2 separate regions of the Homo sapiens genome follow, and region 2 is linked to region 1. Evidence: fine-mapped expression QTL. A gene starts in region 1. The other region holds a variant in brackets. All regions are shown on one strand. Distances are between the middles of the regions.

Region 1 (11,307 bases):
CGGCCAGGCCGCTCGGGTGACCGGGGTGAGATATCGAAGCTCAACATCTTAGCACATCAGCCTCAGCTGTGAGTTGCCTTCCTGGGCTTCTCGCAGCCTCCAGGCCTGGCTCTGGGTGAACACATCGCTTCATGGCCTGGACCCATCATTGCAGATAATCCACTTAGGCGGCTGTTTCTGTTCAGCATTGGACTATGCCCATCCTTCAAGGCCTTGCCCTTGACTGACTACTGCAGCCCACTGGGTCCTCTCCCCACTGCTGTCCCACGGTACTACAGACTGGGACCCTAGAGGGATGTCTCTCCCGTCAGATGTCTTAGAGCTCTGCCTCTCCCCTGTTAAGCCAGCCTGATCTTTTCTTCTAGGCTGTTTGGTTTGGACACAGCCAAAATGGGGGCTGAGCAACAGAGGTGTCCTTGACTGCAAGCCGGTCCTTTTGTTTGTACACTGCCGCCCCTACCTCCGTGTGTCCCTTGCATGGAGTGGCAAAACGAGGCCCAGAAAGTGGGCTAGTTTCTGGCAGGACGCACCACAGTTCAAGACGGTATCCTGCAGCGCTCAGCGATTATGGCCCACTCTGCAACCCTGGGATGTTCGCCTTGACCCTGGAGAGGGAAGCGGGTGCATTGCCACAGGCAGAGGGCTGGATCAGAAGACCCAAAGGGCGCTCCTTCCATGGGCCTTCCAGAGACTTTGCAGACACTCCCTCCAGCTGCCCGGCCCACCCCCTCTCCATTGTCTTAGCTGACACTTTGGGTTGCGCTCCGGACTTCTGGCTGGTGGAGCGCCTCCCTGCCCCCACCTCCCTACCGCCTTTTCTGTCAAAGGCTCAGCGGGGCCCCCGCGCGGCCCACTAATTAGCGCTGGCCCAGCCACACCTGCAGCGTCCTGGGAGAGGGCTGAGACAGGCGCCCATGCGTGAGGCCGGGATGGGGGCAAGCCCGGGGCAGCAGGTCCCGCACCTCCTCCCTGATCCCGCTGGAGGGATTAGAGGAGGGAGGGCAGGGGCTGGAAGCTGAGGGCTCTTCAGCCCAAGACCCTGCTTGTTGGGACTCTCTCCGTGTAACTCCTTCCCCTTCCAGTTGAGGAAACCGAGGTGGGGAGGCAAAGACAGTGGTTTGGCACTCAAGCTCCTGGGGGATCTTCAGGGATCTGACCTGGCTTCATCCCTCCAACCAGGCTGCCAGCTTGTCCTTCCTGACCTTTGCTCCTGCTGGGCACCTCCACCCTCCAAGCCCAACATCTTCTGCCCAAACAGATGAAGCTCCAGGATACCTCCTCCCCAGCCGGGAGCCAAGGCCCTTGGGGAACCATTCTAGCTCCACGGGAGGCACAGGGGACCCTTCTTTCCCAAGGTAGATGTTGGCAGGGTCAGCTCCCCAGGCTGCCTCCACTCTTTCTAGTGTCTCCTCCTTTCTAGCCAATCCTCTCTCAGCCACTGCAGTGAAATCAGCCTTAAAGTCTCAGGCCTCTTTAGCCCACCTCCCCCGGGGGAGGGGAATGCCTAAGTCACCTGGACTCACCTCCACCGTGGCCCAGCGAGCACTGGGGCCTCCCTGCCCTTAGGCACCCCCAGCTTTTCTCCCAGAGTTCTCCTGTCTGGGAGTGCTTACAGACCCAGGGTAGGAGGCCAGGCTGGGGAGGAGACAGGTGGAGAGGGACAGAGTGGCCCTGCCTCTGGCGTACTGAGGGTGCAGCCCTAAATTTCCAAACCCTTGCCAGCCCTGCGCCTGTCCACAGGCCCCAGGGAGAACCACCCCCCTCATCCCTCCCACTCCCAGAGCCTGAGGAGGAAGTGAGTGAGGCGGGGAGGGGATTGGGAGACACTGTGGATGAAGGGACACACCAAGGAATCCCAGCCTTCCCCTGGGGGTGGGAGGGCATCTGGGCTGGGCTGAGGCTGGCCCGGTGCATCCTGTGAGGATACTTGATAGGCAGCAAAAGTAAAGGCGCTGGCAGGGAGCAGAGCCTAGAGGGGCTCCCCTGCACTGACCTTTGCTCTGGGTCCACTGTTGGGTTGTTTGGTGTGAACACATTCTCCTGGGTGGAGGCCATATAGAGCCAGCATCGAGGGAAGCATGCAAACATGGGGGGCGGGCACAGCCATCCCTGGGTTCCAGCCTGGGTCAGAACCTCCAGGGCATGTTGACTATACATAAGGGGCTGGGTGGGAAAGAGCTGGCTGGAGGTGGCTCCAGGCTTGGGCCAACCTGCCCAGAGGAGTGTGGGGTTAGATGGTACCTATAGGGTCCCTGGGTATCAGGAGGTGGGGGCACTTTCCAGGAAGAAGGAAAGCAGAGCATGAAGGTGCAGATCACACACCACACTCAGCACCCAGCAACTCCCGGGTGCCTGCAGGGAGGAGGGACGGCCTGCAGGGAGTGGGGCTCATCACAACAGACTGGCAAGAGTCACACATGCCAGCTCAGGGCTCCAGGCCTGGGCTCTGGACCCAAGGGGGCCCAGTCACTGCATATTTCTGGGCCTTGGTGACCCTAGCTTTGGCCTAGGGAGTATCCGGACCTCCTATCCTCCCCCGAGCTCCATGGGGCAGGGCCTACAGGCCTTGCTTGAGAAATCTGACCCACCCCATTCTCACCATTTCTTCTTAGCTGGAATGTGCTCCACCCTCAGCACCTGCCTCAGGCCTCAGGAGGTGCCCCACACCCCAGGGCTCTCCTCCCATGCGCCCCCGGGCCCCTTTACTCTGATTTCACCCCTCAGCTACCCTCTGAGTTCACTCCACCTCCTCTCCTGGCCTGGATAGCAACAGAGGAACAGAGGGAGGTGGGGTGGCTGCATCAGGCTCACTTCCCCTCACACCACACTCCCTGTTAGGAGCCTCTGGCTCTGCATAGCTGTGGCGGGCCATGCTGGTTTACTCCAGTGAGCCTCTGGCTCTGCATAGCTGTGGCGGGCCATGCTGGTTTACTCCAGTGAGCCTCTGGCTTTGCATAGCTGTGGCGGGCCATGCTGGTTTACTCCAGTGAGCAGGGCGGCCTGAGAATTCACCAGGCCAGGGAGAGTGACCTTGGACAAGGAGATGCAGGGGTTCCCTTTGGTCCTCTGGACCTTGCCCCAGACATCTGGGCCACCCTTGCAGGACAGGCACAGGAGCCACAAGTAGGGCCTCCCCTCTGAAATTGACAAGGGTACATCCCAGCACCTGTAGACACTTCCATGCCCCACACCTGGATACGCATTCTTATCCCAGCTGTACACACACTCACCATACTCAGATATGTGACACTGCCAGAACACATACACAAGTGTTCTCTCCATGAGTGCACATGCACACACGTACATCACACCTAAGTGCACACACACACACCTTTGCCCTGAGTGCATAAGCATGCAGTCACACATTTCCTTACCCCAAGTGAAGGTGGGAGCACCCCCTAGGCACATGCTCCTACCTGCTTATGCACACAGGCACCCTCCTCAGAACACACATACGACATGCACCCATTGATGTGACGCACACGGGGCACCTATTTCCTCAGGCTGAGAGCGCTGACACTCTGCACTGCCACACACACCACTCCAAGTACACTTAATCACACCCCGCCTGACTCTGAGTGCTTGGGTGCACACTCCTCACACAGGCACGTTTACACAAGAGCAGGTGCACAGCACACCCCACTCTCAGGGGCAACTGGAAGCTATCTCTGGACTTCGGGTGTTACAGCAGGATTGGGCTGATGACAGCTACTCCCCAGCCCTCTCTTCTGGGGTGGGCTGGGCTGGGGACCTGCAACCCTTCACCTGCAGAGGTGGCCTCTGGTCCAGGTGGCCCCACTGCGTCACTCTGCTGGACAGAGAGCCCTCCAGGTCTCCCCAGGTCTTGGGTCCTCCTCCTTTTCTGAGGCAAGAAGCGGGGCCCGGGAACCTGGCAGCCCACCCCAGCTCCCCACCCTGACCTCACCCGTCACGGTGGAGGGGCTACTCACTGACACGGGGGTGGGTGATGTAGTTTCGGGTGACCGCCTGCATGTGTTCTCGGGCTGCACCTAGGTTGCAGCTACTGCCGGGGAGCCCCCCAGGCCTGCTGTCTATCTCCATGGCCATGGAGCAGTCCCCAGCTGGGAGCCCAGTGTCTGAGCCTGCTGCTGGTGGCAGCTCTGAGACTTCAGGTCCAGCTGGAGCTGGAGAGAGCTGCTCAGCCTTCCCCTGCAGCCACCCCTCCCCTCTCCCCCTCCCCTCCCTCTCCTCCTCCTCTAGGTTGACAGTAAACAAGGAAGCCTGGGGCTCTGGCTCCCAAGCTTTCCCCACACCAAGCTGTGCAGGTCTGGGAGGGGCCCCCGTCACCTGAGAGCTGGAGGATGTGGAGGGAGAAGGGAAGAGGGGAGGGCTGGCTTTTTCCTTCTTCTGTGCTAGGCGGTTCCTCCCCGCCAACCCCAAACTGTATGAATTCAATTCCTCCCCTGGACCATCAGGTGCTGTCAACATTCCCACACTCGTCCCTCACCACAGCTCTTTCTGGTCTCTCCACACCCAACTTCTGGCAGGCTGCCCTTTCTTCACTGTTCTCGCAACCTGACCTTACCCTGCACTCCTTGCCCTGACTATACCTGGATACTTCTGCCCCCTGACAATTCCATCGTCATCTTTTTGAACATCTGTAGAGAATTATTTCCTGGTCAGCCTCAGTGCCATCTCCTACATGAAGCCTTCTCTGGATTCTCTAGCAGCCAAGATTTACTACACATCTAGCCTCTTTCCTAAGTCATGCCCTTTAGGAGAGGCCTCTCTTGTCCCTGCCACTGGGCTGTGAGCCCCCAAAAGCTGAGCCTGTGTCTCAACCCACAGACCTGGGTCTCCTGAAGCCTGTCTGTCTCATACTATTGAGAGTTCTTGAGAATGAGGGCTGGTCTCTCTCCATCTGATCATAGAACCGTGTCTCATCTTCTCACATTCACCTCCAGATTTCTATACAGCAGGCCTGCCCTGACCTTTCCAGCCCAGGTCAGAAAGTAAAATGGAGGTCCCTGTATTGTATAACTAAATACCTGGAGTTATAAATCAAACTATGTGCACAGCCTGGCCTGGGTTCCACCCAAGACCTCACCACTGCTTCCCAAGAACTCTCTCTTCATGTCATGAAACTAAGAGTTGTGGTTTCTCCTGGTGAGTGGAGTGTGGTACAGTTCCTCTGGGCAAGGCAGGGTGGACCCTGGGTGGTAGCTGGACCTGCCCAACCCAAGGTCTTCTAGTCACCCCCATGCCTCATTCTAGGCTCAGGATTTCTGCATTTCTAAGCTCCTCCCCAAACCATACCACTGAGCAGAGGGAACGGCAGAAGTACATTTGCCTAGGGATCACTGTCCCCAAGCACCCACTCCAGGTGACTCAGGACAGCCAATTTGAAACCAAAGCAGCAGCTACTATGTTTCTCAGAGCAGACTGGAGGAGACTGTGCTTGTTATTTCTCTTCACAGAGTCAAAATCTTACCCCGCATCCTCCCTCCTGAGGACCCATTTCAGGTCTCTGGTTCCTAATGCCCATCCTTTCAAAGAACTCTCCTGTGGAGGGCGGGGGTGGGTGTGACCATCAAGGAGCAGCATGAGGAAGATCTCTGTGGTGATGGAACAGGTCTGCATCTGGATTGCAGCAGTGAGTCCATGAATCTATAAAATGACATGGCACTATGCACACACACGGTACCAATGCCAATTTCCTAGTTTTGATATTGTACTATAGTTAGGGAAGATGAAGCCTATCTGTCTCATACTATTGAGTTCCTGCCAATGGAAGGAACTTCTCTGTCCTATCTCTGCAGCTTCCTGTAAATCTATAATTACTGCAAAATAAAAAGTTAAATAAAAGAGTCTTGAGCAAGACTCTTATTTAACTTTAAAAAAATTTATATTGTTTGAGCAATATGAAATATATATAATATGTATGTGTGTGTGTGTGTGTGTGTGTGTGTATATATATATATATATTTTTTTTTTTTTTTGAGTCAGAGTCTCCCTCTGTTGTCAGGCTGAAATGCAGAGGCATGATCTTGGCTCACTGCAGCCTCCACCTCCTGGGTTCAAGCGATTCTCCTGCTTCAGCCTCCTGAGTGGCTGAGATTACAGGCGCCCGCCACCATGCCCAGCTAATTTTTGTATTTTGAGTAGAGATGGAGTTTCCCCATGTTGGCCAGGCTGTGTATAGATATTTTAAAGGGTTTCATGTTGCAGTTTGTGATGGGTAGGCCGTCTCTAAACATCTGGACTCTTGCTTGTGTTTAGCTTTGATGCTCTCTCTCCCTCTCTCTCAACCTGGTCTCCCCTTTCACCATTCACCCTCTTCAAGGTGACAATGTTTCCCTCTCTCAAGTATTTTTATGTTTGAAAGAGAGCTTGTAAAGGGCAACATTTAACCAAAGAATTCGTGTTGGTGCCATGGGCTTCTATTGAGTGGGAATCAGGTGCCTGCTGACCGACACATGTGAGTCCCCTGACCCCCAGAATCCCAGTTTCTGCCCTCTCCCATCTGAGGTCCCTCTGACTCTAAGCCCATTTTCCCTTCCAGTGACAAGAGGGATAGAAGGGATTGAGGGGTAAGTAGTTGTGCTGTGGGCACCATTTCCCTTCTTGTCATTGTTTTCCTTTTATTTCAGTGAGAGACACACACACTCACACTGCACTCACGCACACAAGCTGCGGGACCAAGGCCATTTGGTCACGAGTCTCTGAGCTGGGGGGCAGGTGGGGAAGAGTGTGTGGCTGCAGCCCCTCCTCTCCGGGGCCTGCTCAGTGCTGTCCGCTGGGGCACAGGAGACTGGGAAGGTGCTGTGCTCGGGACTCAGTGTCACAGGGTGGGAGTCTTAAGTGTTAGCTTTCTTGCAGCTGCTGGCGCTGCCCACTTTCCGTTCTAGCCAGCTGTATGGCTCGAAGGCCGAGGAACCCAGTTCGTAGCCGGCAGGCAGATCCAGGAGCGGGGCCGAGGAAAAGCAGACAGCTGGCAGAGGGGGCGGCAGTGGGGGGGACGCTGAGGCCGAGGACAGCGGGTTGAGGCGTGGGGAGGAGTTCCTGGGGTCACCTAAGGAGGTGCCCCTGTGGCTGGCAGGTAGGCCTGGCAGGCTAGGGGTCAGCGCCAGGAGGCTAGGGGCCCTGGGCACAGAGAGCAGCCGGCCCTGCTCCAGCAGCCGCAGAATGTTGGAGGTGGCAAAGGCCTCGGAGGCTGAGGAGGACGCCCGCTTCTCCAGGTCTCTGCTCTGGTCTTTCTTCTGCTTGGTGCGGCGGTTCTGGAACCAGACCTTCACCTTGGGGTGGGGGAGGGGGTGTCAAGGAGGGAGATGGGACAGGCAAAGCAAAGTGGGGGCAGGTGGGAGGAGGAAAGGAGAGGAAGGGCATGGGGTTGGGGCAGGTGGTGGATGGGGGTGGGGGTGGGGTGTGAGGGTGGAGCAAGAGGGAAAGAAGAGCAGATTGTTGTTAAGGTCTCCCCACAACCATCCTGCTGTAGGCGAACTGATTAGGGACTCTGGTCCCCCAAATTATGGAGGCCCCTCTACTACTAAACTGACTCTGGCCTAGGATGGAGGAATGGATCGACAGACAGAGAATGGAGTTTGGGAGTACAACTGATGTTCTCCTCTTGGCCCACATGCCCTTGGCTCAAAGTCAAGTTCACAGCCTCAGCCACCATTTATGTGCTGGTAATTCCAACTCTACCTCAGGCCCAGAGATCTGAACTGAGATCCAGGCCATGTATCCACCTGCCTGCTAGACATCTCCCCATGGATATCTCAAAAAACACCCCAAACCCCACATGTGCAGCTCTGTCCTCCAAACAGAGGCTTCCCACGCTCCCTCTTCCATCATGGCTGCCTCCACTCACTCATGCAGGAGCCTGTCTCCCAGCTGCCTAGAACAGACCCTCCTCTCTCCCTTTGTTCTCTCTGACCTGGACCGTGGCATTGTCTCTACAGCAGCACCTCTCGACCCTGGCTGCCCATGAGAACCTGGGGAGCTTTAAGCCCCTAACTCACTTCTCACCTTGGACCAATAAACTCAGAACGGGGGAACCTGGGACCCAGACTTTAGTAGTTTTTAAAGCTCACCAGGTGATTCCAAGGTGAAGAAGCCAGTGTTTTAAAGGTGTCTCTGCCCCAGGTCTAAACTGTAACATCTAGAGGGCTGGGGCAAGAGAAAAAATGGAAGCCTCTGGCTCATGGCCCACCCTGGCTCTGACCCACACGTGTGTGGCTGCCCCAGCCTGTTCACAGTCTGCAAATAGCCCCCCATTGGCCGCTTCTTGGGCCTGGAGTGCTGAATAATGTCTGTGGTCTGCCCTTGGGAAGACTGACCCTGGAGAGGCCCAGGCAGGTGCCGGATGTGGCTCAGGGCCATTTGGCGGGGAATTCTGAAACTGGACACTTTGTTGGCAGGGATGGGTGGTCTCAAAGGTGGGCACAGGCTTCTGGCAGGCGAGACCCCTTGGCTTTGCAGAGTCCTCATTCCGTAGGGAGGGGCATGACCAGAGGAGGGGCCAGATGCCTGTCTGGGGATGGTGAGGTCTCTGCATCCATGCTGGCCGCCACGCTGCCTTTGGAGGGAGCTCTTTCTAACCCAATCTGGCCATTGCCCGGTTTGAAGTTTTTAGCAGCACCCTCCTACCCCATCACCTATAAAGGCCAAGTTTCTCAATGTGACACCAAGTGTGACTGGATGTGGCAGGTTGTTGAGGGGGACTTCTGTTGGCCACACATTCAAAGCTGAGGACAAAGAGGTGCCACAGTCTGAAGAAAGTCACCAGAATCATGGAAGAGGTCTTTTTCAGGGCCTCTGAGAGGAGGCAGAACTGGCCCTGCCTCTACTACCCAACACCCAGTGCTCCAAACCCCTTCCTACTCTACATGAGGAAAGGGAACTGGGCAGGAAGCTGAGGCTCAGTCCCCTGGGGGCCACAAAACCTCATGGGAGGAAGGGTGTGCTGCCCTGCAGATGCAAGTTGGGGGAGGGCCCAAAAGAATCACTTGTAGGCACTAGAAGGAGAGACTGGCATTCATGCCCCACTCCAGAAACTCATCAGGCCACAGCATCTACAGGCCCATGTCATGGAGGCCACCATGGGAGCACCCAGACTTGTTTCCCTGGGAACATAGAGGCCAACCCTGCTCCTCGCCTGGAGCTGGGGCAGGTGTACCGGCAGGGAGGGTGAGAACCGTGGAGGGGAGGGCCCAATAAGAAAAGGTCAGGAAGACCTTGCTGGTTCCTTCCAGCTTTTGGAAGATTTAATAGTCCAGCAACTGCTGTGGTTTTGAGAAGTTGCCAAGAGATGGGTGGAGGAGAAGGCTTGAGCCAGAGGGCTGCCCAGGTTAAGAAGACAGGCAGAGCCAAGACAGACTGGGCCACCTGGGCCATGCCAGACATCACCACCTGCTAGGAGTGACTGGCCCTTCAGCAAAGGCCTTCAGAAAGTGAGGCCTTGGTGCTTCCCCTCCTCACACCAGAAGATGTCCAGTCTTTTAAAAAGATCTCTGCCTCCTTGAAGCCACCCCCTGTCGTCTGATCCTGGAGGAGGTGGCTGTTGGGGGAAGAGGGAGCAAGTGACTGAGACAGATCACAATCCCCTCCAGAGGCTGCACTGGGAGGAGGTAAAGAGTGGGCAGGGGTCCTTTTGTAGTTCTTCAGCAGGATGACTGGGTGTTCATGCTCCTATGTGAGATGTGCTTTCCTCAAACCTCAAACCTTGCTGGCAAGCAGTGAGTCAAGGCTGTTCTGAGTGGGGAAGCAGGTGTGGGGCTTCAGGAGAAGATGAGATTTAAACTAGATGTGAGTTGGTGTTTTGAAGGACATTGGATTGAGTTTATTTCTTTATTTTTGTTTTTAGAGACAAAGTGTTGGTTTTCTGCCTGGGCTGCAGTACACTAGTGTCATGAGAGCTCACTGCAGCCTCAAAATCCTGGCCTCAAGTGATCCTCTTGCCTCAGCCTCCCAAGTTCTGGGACTACAGGTGCACACCACCGCACCTGGCGGATGCAGATTCAATAATCAAAAGTGACCAGAAAGTTATGAGACCTACTTGAGGTTGATTGCTTCATTTATCCATTCATTCACTCACCAGATATACATTGAGGCCCAGGGAATCAGCAGTGAACAAAGCCCAGTGAATCCTTGCCACGTGGAGTGGGCGGTGGAGTTGGGGAGGCAGAGGATGAACAACAAACACAAACAAGCCTGTCTGTCAATTGGCAGCAAGGGCTTTGAGCCGTGTTTCTCAAATGATTTGAGGTGAGGACCACTTTATAAAGTGTCCAATTTTGTTGAGGACCAATACTTTAAAAAATACAATTAAAATGAATTACTGGAAAGATTGCTATATACATTGTTTTTTTTTTTTGAGATGGAGTCTCACTCTGTAGCCCAGGCTGGAGTGCAGTGGCATGATCTCGGCTCACTGCAACTTCCACCTCCGGGGTTCAAGTGAGTCTCCTGCCTCAGCCTCCTGAGTAGCTGGGATTATAGGCGTGTGCCATCACACCCAACTAATTTTTGTATTTTTGCTAGAGACAGGGTTTCACCATGTTGGCCAGGCTGGTCTCGAACTCCTGACCTCGTGATCTGCCCACCTCGGCCTCCTAAAGTGCTGGGATTACAGGCATGAGCCACCGCTCCAGGCCTTTTCTAAATACCTATTCTTTATTTCTATACTTACCATGTCATAGACAGGTAACAGTTTATGGGCTGGCAGTGGCCCAAGGGCCATACTCTGGGGGGCACTGCTTTAGAGAAAGGTGGCAGGATAGCAGAAAGGAAGGAGGGGGGTGACTGTTTTGTTAATGGAATGGCACATACAGCCTCCCTGAAGAGGGGACATTTGAAGAAGATATCAGTAAGGGATGGTCAAGGAAGATTCAGCCAAGTCTAGCTGAAGGCAATGACTGGAAAGAAGAAAACCCTTTCCCATTTGTCACCTCTGGAATCTGACTGCTGAGGGAAGGAGTCTCACCAGATCCTCAAGGACCATAGCGCTGCACACTGCTGCATTCCCCCTCCCTGCTGGGAAGCTTCCTGACCTCTTAGCCAAGCCAGCACCTCCCCGTCCTAGGACCTGAGGCCAGGCCACCTCCAGGAACCCCTGAGCCTCAGTGTCTTATCTTTAAAATGGGGACAATAATACTTGGCTATTGCAGAGATGAAAGAAGAAAACCCATTTAGGGAGCTTGGCATCACGCCTGGCCCACAGGAAATGTGAATAGTTATTTATCGCTGGCTTTCTCTGTTTCTAGCTCTGTTTCTGAACTAGAGGGAGAGGAGACACAGATGTCATGACTCCAGTCCTTGGGAAGCTGAGGGTCTAGTGGGGGAGTG
Region 2 (11,307 bases), 24 kb after region 1:
TTTTATAACTCCTTGCGAGTCTATAATTATTTCAAAATAAAAAGTTGACAACAAAAGCATGCCACAAAGCTAGAGTGATGTGTTGTCACAGAAATTGACAAATCCATTAGTAGAAAAAACACGATAGTGTCTCTGTATTCCACTTATGGTTTGTAAGATGATTTAAAATTGTACATAAATAAGCATGTCATTTAAAAAGTTAGGCATTTATTTTAATGTTTACTAGAAAAAAATTTAAACCTATAATTTTATAGGCTTAGGGTGAGGCTAAAGTGGAAATTTAATCTTAAAATGCATTATGCTAAAATATTAAGAAAATAAATGGAATATTAATATAACAAATGAAGATGGGACTCAAATGACTGCATGTGGGGAAACAATAGCATGGGAAGTACAAGATAAGGGGATATTAGACACATGTATCCATAGTCATAGAGTTTATCATAAAAGGGCATTCAAGATGGGAAAAGAGTGATTTAGTCAATAAGTCACGTTAAGCAGATTGGTGACCATAAATTGTATGTTTGGAATAAAATTAAGTTAAATTCCTATCTCGCTCCATAAATAACAACACATTTCAACTGGATTAAAGACCAAATCATAGATGATAAAATTATAAGGGCATTACAAAAAAATATAGGAGGATGTTTTTAGAATGCTAGGCTTGGGATGAAATTTCTAAGCAAGCTGCAAAACTGGAGGCTGTAGGCTAGGCGTGGTGGCTCACGCCTGTAATCCCAGCACTTTGGGAGGCTGAGGCAGGTGGATCACCTGAGGTCAGGAGTTCGAGACCAGCCTGGCCAACGTGGCGAAACTCCGTCTCTACTAAAAAATACAAAAATTAGCTGGATGCGGTGGCAGGCACCTGTAATCCAGCTACTTGGGAGGCTGAGGCAGGGAAGGGGAAGTTGCAGTGAGCTGAGATTGTGCCATTGCTCTCCAGCCTGGGAGACAGAGCAAGACTCGGTCTCAAAAAAAACAAAAAACAAACAGCAAAAAAACTGGAGGCTGTAAAGGAAACACAAAGGATGTATTTGACTATATTAAAGCTAAAAACTTGGATGACAAAAGCACCAAAATCAAGGTAAAGTACAAGAAACAGATTTGAAAAAAAAAATACATTTAAGAGTCAAAGAGGCTGGTTGTGGTAACTCATGCCTGTAATCCCAGCACTTTGGGAGGCCGAGGTGGGCAGATCACTTGAGGCCAGGCATTGGAGACCAGCCTGGGCAACATGGTGAAACCTCTTCTTTACTAAAAATAAAAAAATTAGCTGGGTGTGGTGGCGTGCGCCTCTAATCCCAGCTACTCAGGGGCCGAGGCATGAGAATCACTTGAACCTGGGAGGGAGAGGTTGCAGTGAGCCAAGATCGCACCGTTGCACTCCAGCCTGGCAATACCGTGAGACTCTGTCTCAAAAAAAAAAAAAAAAATTTAAGTAAATAGCCTGATAAAATAAATGGTCAAGTAATTTATCTGGGTCATTCACAAAAAAAGACAGCTAAATGGCCAATAAACATATGAAAGGATAAGCATAGCTTTATAGTAATCAATATAATACAAGTTCCAGCAACAATGGAAAGCCCTTTATATCCCATAAGGTTGAAAGGACATTAACAAGTGATTAAAAACAATGATGACAATTAATAACAATGGTGCACTGTAGGGAAATCTACACTCCTATACGCTATTAATAGAACCATAATTGAGTCCATCTTTTAAGGCTGCATTTATCAAGATTAAAGATGCACATAACTTTTGCTCCAATTATTTTATTTTATTTTTTGAGATAGAGTCTCACTCTGTTGCTCAGGCTGGAGTGCAGTGGTGCAATATCAATGCTCACTGCAGCCTCCGCCTCCCGGGTTCAAGTGATTCTCCTGCCTCAGCCTCCCAAGTAGCTGGGATTACAGGTGCCCATCACCACGCCCCCTAATTTTTGTAATTTTTTAGTAGAGACAGGGTTTCACCATGTTGGCCAGGCTGGTCTCAAACTCTTGACCTCAAGTGATCCACCCACCTTGGCCTCCCAAAATGCTGGGATTACAGATATGAGCCACCGCACCTGGCCTGATTTTATTTTCGTTGGTATTTGTCCTAGAGAAACACAGGCTCAGGTGCTCCAAAGTATATACAACAATGGTGTGTGTTGCTGCACTGCTCAAAACACCAAAAATTTGAAAGCATCCTCAGTATTTTCCACAAGAGAAATGGCTGAACAAATAGTGGTACATTTGTATTATAAAATACCATGTAATAATTGAAAAGAATGAGGCAATAAGCTATGTGAACAGACATTAGTGTATGAAAGTAAGTTACAGAATAACATGTAGTTTAATCTCATTTATGTAGATTAAAACAACTGAATATATTCAACCATTCAACATGTATTTAATAAGCCCTTATTTGTCAAATATTATTCTAGGGCCTGGGGATACAGAAATGAGCAAAAGAGAAAAGCATTTGTTCCTGTAAACCTTGTACTGGGGAGGGAGACAGATAATAAATGTAAAGTTATTTATTTATTTATTTATTTATTTATTTATTTATTTATTTATTTTGAGTCGGAGTCTCGCTCTGTCACCCAGGCTAGAGTGCAGTGGCGTGATCTTGGCTCACGGCAACCTCTGCCTCCTGGGTTCGAACGATTCTCCTGCATCCGCCTCCTGAGTAGTTGAGATTACAGGCACCCACCACCATGCCCGCTAATTTTTGTATTTTTAGTAGAGGCAGGGTTTCACCATGTTGGCCAGACTGGTCTCAAAAGGCTCAAGTGATCCCCCCGCCTCAGCCTCCCAAAGTGCTGGGATTACAGGCGTAAGCCACTGCACCCGGCCTTCAAGCAATTTATTTCTAATAAAAAATAAATTTTAAAAATATGTAAGGCAAAGACGAGTGTTGGGAAGGCAATAAAATAAGATAAGGGGATATTACCATCCCTGCCCTAAATAACAAAACCCAATAACCAGAGAGTGTGTGTGTGTTGCCACACCCTTTCTACTGTGATGGTCTTGGAAGCAGGAGTGAAGAAGCTTTACCAGCCTGGGTTTCTGAGTATCAGGATGAGCCCCTGTCCACTTGTGATGGACTTCTGTGAGTGATAAATGCATTTGTGTTTTGTTAAGCCTCTAAAATTTGCGGTTGTCTCTGCAGCAAAATATAGCCTATCTTACTAAAATAGTCCTCTTTTTTTGAGTTGCTCCTTTTCTAGGAGGAGTTTGGGAGGAGCATCTGGAAAGAGGAACAGCTTTCATTCCAGGGCTTCCTTGCAGGTAGGCACTTATTAGGGTGAAATGAAATGAGTCCTGCATTTTGCTACCCCTCAAGTCTCCTCAAAGAGCAGTGAGCTCTGAGGGTATGTGGGAGGGTGAATTCTGCCCAAGAGCCTTTGCTTGGGAGAGGTGGTGACCCCCGGCCTGATAGTAGTTAGCTTATGCTTCTGACCTCTGGTGCCCCTCTGGCACCTCTCCCAATAGACATCCCCCCCACCTCCAAAGCCCTATCTCACTTCTTTTCCTACCTAGCACTAGGTAGTCTCTTTGCACGATAAGCTGATAATGTGCTGACTTTTTTTTGAAACGGAGTCTCACTCTGTCACCCAGGCTGGAGTGCAACGGCGTGATCTCAGCTCACTGCAACCTCCGCCTCCCGGGTTCAAGCGATTCTCCTCCCTCAGCCTCCTGAGTAGATGGGATTACAGGCGCCCACCACCGCGCCTGGCTAATTTTTGTATTTTTAGTAGGGACGGGGTTTCGCCATGTTGCCCAGGCTGGTTTCAAGCTCCTGACCTCAAGTGATCTGCCCCCTCTGGCCTCCCAAAGTGCTGGGATTACAGGCATGAGCCACCATGCCTGGCCGATAATATGCTGACTTTTAAGTGTGCAAGGCCCTTCCTGCCCCCACCTACAAATATAATGTGATTGCTATAAAAATTCCTTATGGAAAATTCATTCTCAAGTTTATTGGGAACATTGAAAATGCAAGGATAGTCAACAAAAAAAGTTAAACAATAGTAGTGAATACTTGCATTACCACACAGCAAATATGTTACAAATCTACAGCAACTAAAATGGTATAATGCTGCACAAGAGTTATGAAGCAAATTCATGTGTCTATGTGGATCTGGTATGTTGGGAAGACAGTATTTTGAATTAGTTGGAGGAAAGACAGGGTTATTAGAGACATAGCTTTTGAACAATTAGTTCATTATTTGGAATAAAGCTATTTATCTCACACTGTGTGCAAAAATAAACACAAATTTAAATGTAAATAAAAGCTCTAAAAATTGAAGAACAAATATAAAATAACTTTCTAGAAAGGAAAATAAATGACATATTTGAGTACCTAAAAATAAACGCATCTGCAGGGTAAGAGACAGATGGGGAGAAAATATTCATAATGAATTCTTAACAGAGTCCTAATGTCTGGTATACACACAGCCTCTGTAAACCAGTGAGTAAAGTCAAGCAGTCCAGTGGGAAACCGAACAAATTATTCAGAGAAGAAGAAATGCATGTGGTTAATAAATATGAAAAAATACTCGGGCTAGAGGAATCAGAAAAATGAAAGTTATAACAGCAATGAGATATCCTTGTTTTTTGAGATGCCATATTTTATCTATCAGATTTGGAAAATTGTACTGGCAAGGCTGAGTAGAATTAGGTTCTCTCAAGCTCTCTCAATAAGAACATAAATTGATATAATATATGGTTTTTGAAGAGGAATAATGCCTAGCTAAACTTAAAATGCACTGTTCCTTTGTCCCAGCATTTTTATAGAGCTTTCTATCACACAGAAACGTTGGCGTAGTTGATAAATACAGACCCACTGTTTGTAGCATAGTTTGCAAGAGGGAGAAAAGGGGGAAAAGCTGAATGTTTATCAATAGGAAAATTGTCGATAAAATCACAGTCTAGTAATAACTTTGGCTATATGTAAACATTAACAAGAATGAGACACATAACCTGGATGGATGTTTATTGTATACTACTAAGTGAAATGGCAAGTGTGCATAAACCCATTTTTATATTAAAAAAACAGTAAAAGTAAACTCTTTCTGTGTGTGTGTTTGTGTTTTTGTAACCACATAGGAACAAGTCTGGCAAAAGAAGCACCTCACTCTTCTCTTGCCTCTGAGGAGTGGAAACCGATCAGGGAGGAAAGATTCAACTCATTTTTTGTCTTTCTTTATTATTTCTTTTGGTGAAAAGACTAGGGAATAAAATTTTTTTGGTAGCAAACATTTTAATATGTTTGTGTATGCATATATAATGTTTTAAATGCTGGATGAAGATTTTTCTAACTAGGAGCTAGAATCTAGAAGCCCAAAAAGGAACAACCATTAAATGTGGTTAGAGTTTAAATTTCAGTTTAGAAAAAAAAAAAATCCCACAAAGAAAGTTTTTTGTTGCTGTTTTTTTGTGGGTTTTTTGTTTTGTTTTGTTTTTTTTTTTAAGAAAGTGACCTGGGAGTTGTTTGCAATACATGTCACAGAAAAAGGGCTCATTTCCTTACTATATAAGTGGCACTTACGAAGATGAGAAAACAATTAGTGATCCGATAGAGAAATGGCTAAATATATGAAAAATTCACAGAAGAGAATATTAAAATGAAGAATAACTACATAAAAACATGCTTAACCTCACTAGCAATTTAAACTACTAATAAAATGAGATTATTCTGTCACTTGAAAAGATTTCACTCTAAAAAATTAAGTATAT[T/C]CTGAGTTGGGAGGACGTAGAGAAATGACACTTTTATACAAGATGGCTAAGAGTATAAATCAATATAAGAGTTTTGGTATAAAATTTGGAAATACTATCATAACTTTAAATGTATATCCTTGGATTTTAAAAGTTTGCTTCTAGGAATTTATCCTGTAATTATATTCATACCATGTATATGTAAAATGATTCTTGTTACTTTAAACAGTTTATTATGACAAATTTCAAATATTTACAAAATTAGGGAGAGCAGTACAATGAGCTCCGATATACCTATCCCCCAATTTCAACTATTAGAAACTCAGGAATAATCTTCTTTCTTCTATTCTGCTGTAATTATTAGCAAATTCTAGAAGTCATAACATTTCACTTATGAGTATTTCAACATGTATCTCTTAAAAAGGGGGGACTCTTAAAAAAGTCACCTATAATACTATTATCACAATAAAAATCGACAATTATTCCTTAATATAATAAAATATCCCACCTGGTTTTACATGTTCCAAATTGTCTCATAAATAAGATTTAAAAAAAACCATTTGTTCAAGGGAGCACTCATTCTATGGTATAAATGAGGTAGGTGTTGCCTGGGATAAAAAGATAAGAATAATTAAAAATAAAACAAACCATTTGTTCAAATTAGGATACAAAGATGTTCACTACAGCATTGTTTGTAATAATGAAAAAGTACAACCAACCTAAATATCCATTAATAGAGGACTAGTTAAATAAGTTATATGATATCTACATAACGGAATCCTATACAGTGGTTAAAAAGAATGAGGGAGTTCTAGAAAGAAAGATTTCCACAAATATTCTTTTACTCTACTTGCAAGCTAAGACAATTTGTTTAATTAAGAAAAAAGTCATTGCAAAAAAATCCAATTTTTGTAATATATAACTTACATATTTATATTTTTCAATTACTAGGTAAAGTTTGGAAGGTAAATCTTAGGAGTGGAAGTGTATCATGTAAGGGAAATTAGAAACTTTTAAATTTTACATGACATAGCAAAATAGTATGGATTGCTTTTGTAATTAAAAAGATATTTTATGAGAGGCGCAGGTGGGAGGATTGCTTGAGGCCAAGAGTTTGAGACTGGCCTCCTCAATATGGTGAAACCCTGTCCCTACTAAAAAAAATTAAAAATAAAAAATTAAAGAAAATAAATAAAAAATTAAAGCTAGGCCAGCATTGTGGGGAGTGCCTATAGTCTCAGTTACTCCAGAGGCTGAGGTGGGGGGACTGCTTGAGGCCAGGAGTTCAAGGTTATAGTGTGCTATTGTTGGGCCACTGCACTCCAGCCTGGGTGACAGAGTGAGCCCTTGTCTCTAAAAAATAAATATAATGACATAATAAAAATAAAAAGACATTTTATACTTCTGAAAACAAAAGACCATCCTAAACAAAATCAAAGGATAAATTGTAAATTAAAATGTTGCAACACATATTGAAAGCAATACATAGAGTTTCTACAGATCAATAAGGAAAAGGTATATTTGCAAATTAAACTGGTCAAAGGAAATGAATCAATAGATAGAAGAAATACAACTGGCTAATGAATATGAAGATCGACAAAGATGAAATGATACAAAATGTCCAGTGTGGGGACAGGGCAAAGGGGTGGACATAAGTAACTAAACTTCTCCTGCAGAATAACTTGACTATGTTCATCAGGATGTAAAATGTGAACTGTGCTGGCAAATTTTGGAGAAACAACCACTTTCAGACATCGCTGGTGGCAGTGTAAACTGCTTCCATCTTATGGAGGACAAACAATTGGGCATTATCTTGCAAATTTCAAACACAGATACCATTTGACCCAGTAATTCACTTTTAGGAACTTCTCTGACAGATATACTCACACATGTGGAAATGACTAAGAAACAAGTTTATTTATTTCAGGATTACATATAATAGCAACAGATAAGAAAATAACCAAATGTCCACAAATAGGGTACTGGTTATATGATATACATTATGATCCACCTAGTCCACTTAAATGGAATATTATGCATCTATAAAAAAAACAAACAAAAAGTTATTTACACCCCAAGATATATTGGAAGAAAAAAGTTATATAACTGCACTGATTTCCATAGGCATAAACATTATCTGGAAGGACATATTAGAAAGTCCTTGAACCAGGTGGGAAGTGGGTGATGGGGACAGGGATGGGAGAGGTTTTTCACCGGATACTTTTTAAAAAGTGCAGTGGCTCCCACCTGTAATCCCAGCTATGTGAGCACTTGAGTCCAGCTTAAACCCAAAATAGTGAGACCTCCCATCTCCTGATGTCTGAAAAAAAGATGTTTTGATGAATTAATTATCTATTTTACAATTACCTATTACAGTAAATGAAATATATTTAAATTGTGTGTGTAAATCTTTCGAAGCAGTAATTACACTGCTAGAAACTTATCCCACAGAAACAGTCAAAGGTCTAGAAGAACCCTGCCTTCGGAGCTTACTTCACAGTGTTTATATTAAGGAAAAACAACCCCAAGGTCCCTCCAGTCTTTAGGGGAATTAGGCTTTCCCCAACTAAAGGAATACTTAATTCTACAGTCAAGGGACAGCAAGAACTGGTTCAGCAGAGAAGATGATCACTGCAGATTAAATTTTTTTGAAATGGTAAATTGCAAAACAGCCTATGAAATATAGTTCTGCTTTTATTTATTTGTTCGTCTATAAGAGCGTGGAAAAATCGCCTGGAAGGACTCGCCCAGAATTGAAAACAGTGGCTGTTCCTGGGATCCTTCTTTGCTTCCGGTTTTTAAAAAAATCGAGCTCGTATTACTTTTTGAATTTAAATCCTCTATTTTCCTGTCTACATTGTAAGTGTGGCCCTGCCGGAGGCTGTGCCTCGTAGAGTGTCCTTTGCCCGGCCCTGGCTTCCGCAGCTCCGCGGGTGGACGCGGTGGGCTGCCAAGTAGTGGGGAATGGAAGGCGGGACAGGGGCTCTGAAAGTCAATGTCTCCAGCAAGACGCTAAAGAAACCGTGGCGTCAACTGCGCGGTTATTTTTGGCTCCAGCCGTGGGCTGCAGCCGTGTGAGCCGGCAGGGGCAGGGGCACAGATTTATCCAGTTATTTCTGTCAACCCTCTGGCTGGCTTTGCCCGTGGAACCTCACACCCGGCTGCCGCCGAAAGCCGAAAGCCGAAAGCCGGGAGACTCACCATTGACTTTACGAGCGGCCCAGCGCTTCCCAAGACCTCCGCTCCAGCCTAGGCCGGCCTCTAAGCCGCCACATATATGAGGGTTTTCAGGTTTTGTAATTCAGTGCTTCCCAAAGCTGCGGATTGCAGAAACAAAATTTCGAAACTATGGGGTTGTCAACTTCATGCTTTAACAATTATTCTATGTTCTGCCATGATCACTGTTTCATATAAGAAGGACATTGCAACGTCAAAAAATAAGATAATATTAGAACACACGTTCTTCCGGGAGAAGGCGTTGGCCGCCTAATTAATACCTACAGAATTATGCCATGTTGATGAATTTTGTCCCATTTAAGTTATTCGAGAAGTATTTATTGAGTGCCTACAGTGCACTAAAAGCATCCGGGAAGATCGCCTGGATTTGGTGGGCACAGTGACCACCTCCTACGTGGTCTTTGCCTGGCTTCAAGGGAAGCAGGCTCGGGGAGCCCGCCCCCTCGACTTCAGCGGGGAAGTCTCTACCCAGCTGTTTCTGGCCTGACTGTGGGAGCTGGGCAGAAACAGCTTACATTTATGGGAAGCTGCGTGCCAGCAGCTTGAGCCAGGATCAGTCTGGCACACAGTGAGTACGCATTAATGTTTGTAGAATAAGTTAAAGAACAAGAAACGCGCGGTAGCTCAGTCCTGTAATCCAGCACTTTGGGAGGTCGATGAGGGAGGATCGCTTGAGCCCAGAGGTTCAAGGTTACAGTGAACTATGATTGCACCCTTGCACTCTAGTCTGGGCAACAGAGCAACCACTCTATCTAAAAAAAAAAAAAAAAAAAAAAAAAAGGAAAAGAAAAGAAAAAAAAAGAAAGAATAAAAGATGTTAAGGCCACGGGGGAGATGGTTCAAGGAGGGCCCTGAGCCTTTACAAGCCCAAGCCTCCGCCAGGGCCTTATAGCACACTCCTTCAGTCTGGCACTCACCCTGACTTTCCGGGTGCATTCACCCTGGCTCTGTAGGCCACATCCAAGCCTGGGGCTGCTACCTCTTTCTGCAGTGCTGAATGTCCCCAGTCAGCATCCACCAACAGTGGGAGAACCCAGGACACTGAAACCCCCAACTGCCTTCCCGGATGAGCTGGGTTGGGGGTATGAGGAATGAACTAGCCTCCTAGACCTGTCTCGCCGCAGGGATTGGTGGGCAGGCCCATGCAGCGTTGGTGTCTTCTATCAGAGTATCTTGAACTGGGGTACAGAATCTGCAGATGCACAGCCAGGTAACCGGCTACTGGCTCTCCAAGGGTAGTCAGGTCTAGCATTATTTGTGATTTTATATTAAGCAAGGAGCAAATAGGCAAAATTCATATGCTCCACCTCCCACCATTAAAATAGAAATCAAAGAAATGTAGCCAACAAGAAGGGAGCCTGCAGCCAAGGGGTAATTGGGGAAATGGCACCCAGGCCAACGTGATGCATAGACACCCTCTCTCCTTACCGGTGCTGCGCAAAAGAGGAAGACTTGAGCCCGGTGGCTTTGACTGACTGCGGGTGCATGCCACTGCCATCTCCTCCCTTTCCTGTAGCCCCAGGTACCCACTCCTTGTCCGGGCTTCCAAAGGATTTGGCCTCCTTGCCCCTCGGACTCCCCAGAAGCTACCTGGGGGACCATCCCTGAAGATGCAGGTGTGTGGGGCAAGGGGATGCGGTGGCAGTTCCATGGGTTCCTGGGTCTACCAGACCAGGCGGGGAACAGAAATCGCCTGAGGAGGGAAGGAGCTGTCTAATCTTCCTGAACCGTTCCCTGAAAATGAAAACTGGGCACACAAGACACACCTACAAGATGATTTTTCGGGTTGCTGGTCTGCTTCAGTGTGTGTTTGTGGGGGTAAGGGTTATGGAAGGGGGGGAAACAAAAGAAGACCCAAATGAGAGGGCCCGGCATAGGAATAGGCACGCTATGGGAATGTGGGCCTCCTGCCGAAAACAAGTAAAAGGAAAAAATAACGTAAAGCAACTCCAAGAAAACAAACAAACAAAAAAGAAACCCTCTACAAATGCTAAAACCAAAAAATAAAACAAATACAAAAATCTCAAAGTGCAATTCCTTGCATGAACCATTTACACCTTTCCACGTCTGCCTTGGGGGCTGGTCCTCGGTTGTCAGGTCTATTAACAGACTCAGATATTGAGACTAAAGTCCTGTGGTCCTTACTAAACGCCTGCTCAGCAGGGCTAGGCCTGCGGCCCGGCCGATCTCCCCAAGCCCAGTGGCTGTTGGTAATCCAAGCAGAAAGCGAGCAGAGGCCGGCCGGCCCTGAGCCTGGACCCGGCTGCTGGAGGCGAGGCGTCTGTCCCTGCAGTAACCTCCCAGCCAGAGCCCCGAAGCTGCGCCCCCTTGTATGGCTTCTTCAGACGCGTCTCTGGGAGTTAGGGCCCCG

Alleles and levels. Alleles are on the strand shown, and positions count from the first base shown. SD is a standard deviation of normalised expression in the study named.
In carriers of allele T in region 2, the expression in unexposed skin of the gene that starts at base 4,123 in region 1 tends to be higher than with C alone (small effect, 0.24 SD a copy in GTEx).

What was found. PIP is the estimated chance that this variant, and not a neighbour inherited with it, causes the effect.
Region 2: its variant is the best candidate, but not a certain one, in a credible set for the expression of ATP6V1B1 in unexposed skin (GTEx, PIP 0.79).

What each region holds. Positions count from the first base shown.
Region 1 is chr2:70,928,716-70,940,022 of GRCh38, reverse strand. ATP6V1B1 (ATPase H+ transporting V1 subunit B1) reads right to left here and starts at 4,123. Exons shown (of 14, transcript NM_001692.4): 1 at 3,951-4,123. The coding sequence starts at 4,068. It overlaps VAX2 (ventral anterior homeobox 2), which reads right to left. Exons shown (of 3, transcript NM_012476.3): 3 at 6,577-7,256. The coding sequence ends at 6,819. It also overlaps the pseudogene LOC124906188. RefSeq lists enhancers at 1-678, 679-1,519.
Region 2 is chr2:70,904,930-70,916,236 of GRCh38, reverse strand. All of the region lies in intron 1 of VAX2 (ventral anterior homeobox 2), which reads right to left. Among named protein-coding and RNA genes, the nearest start is that of VAX2, 10 kb to the right of the region's middle. The variant T/C (reference allele first, on the strand shown) is at 5,721.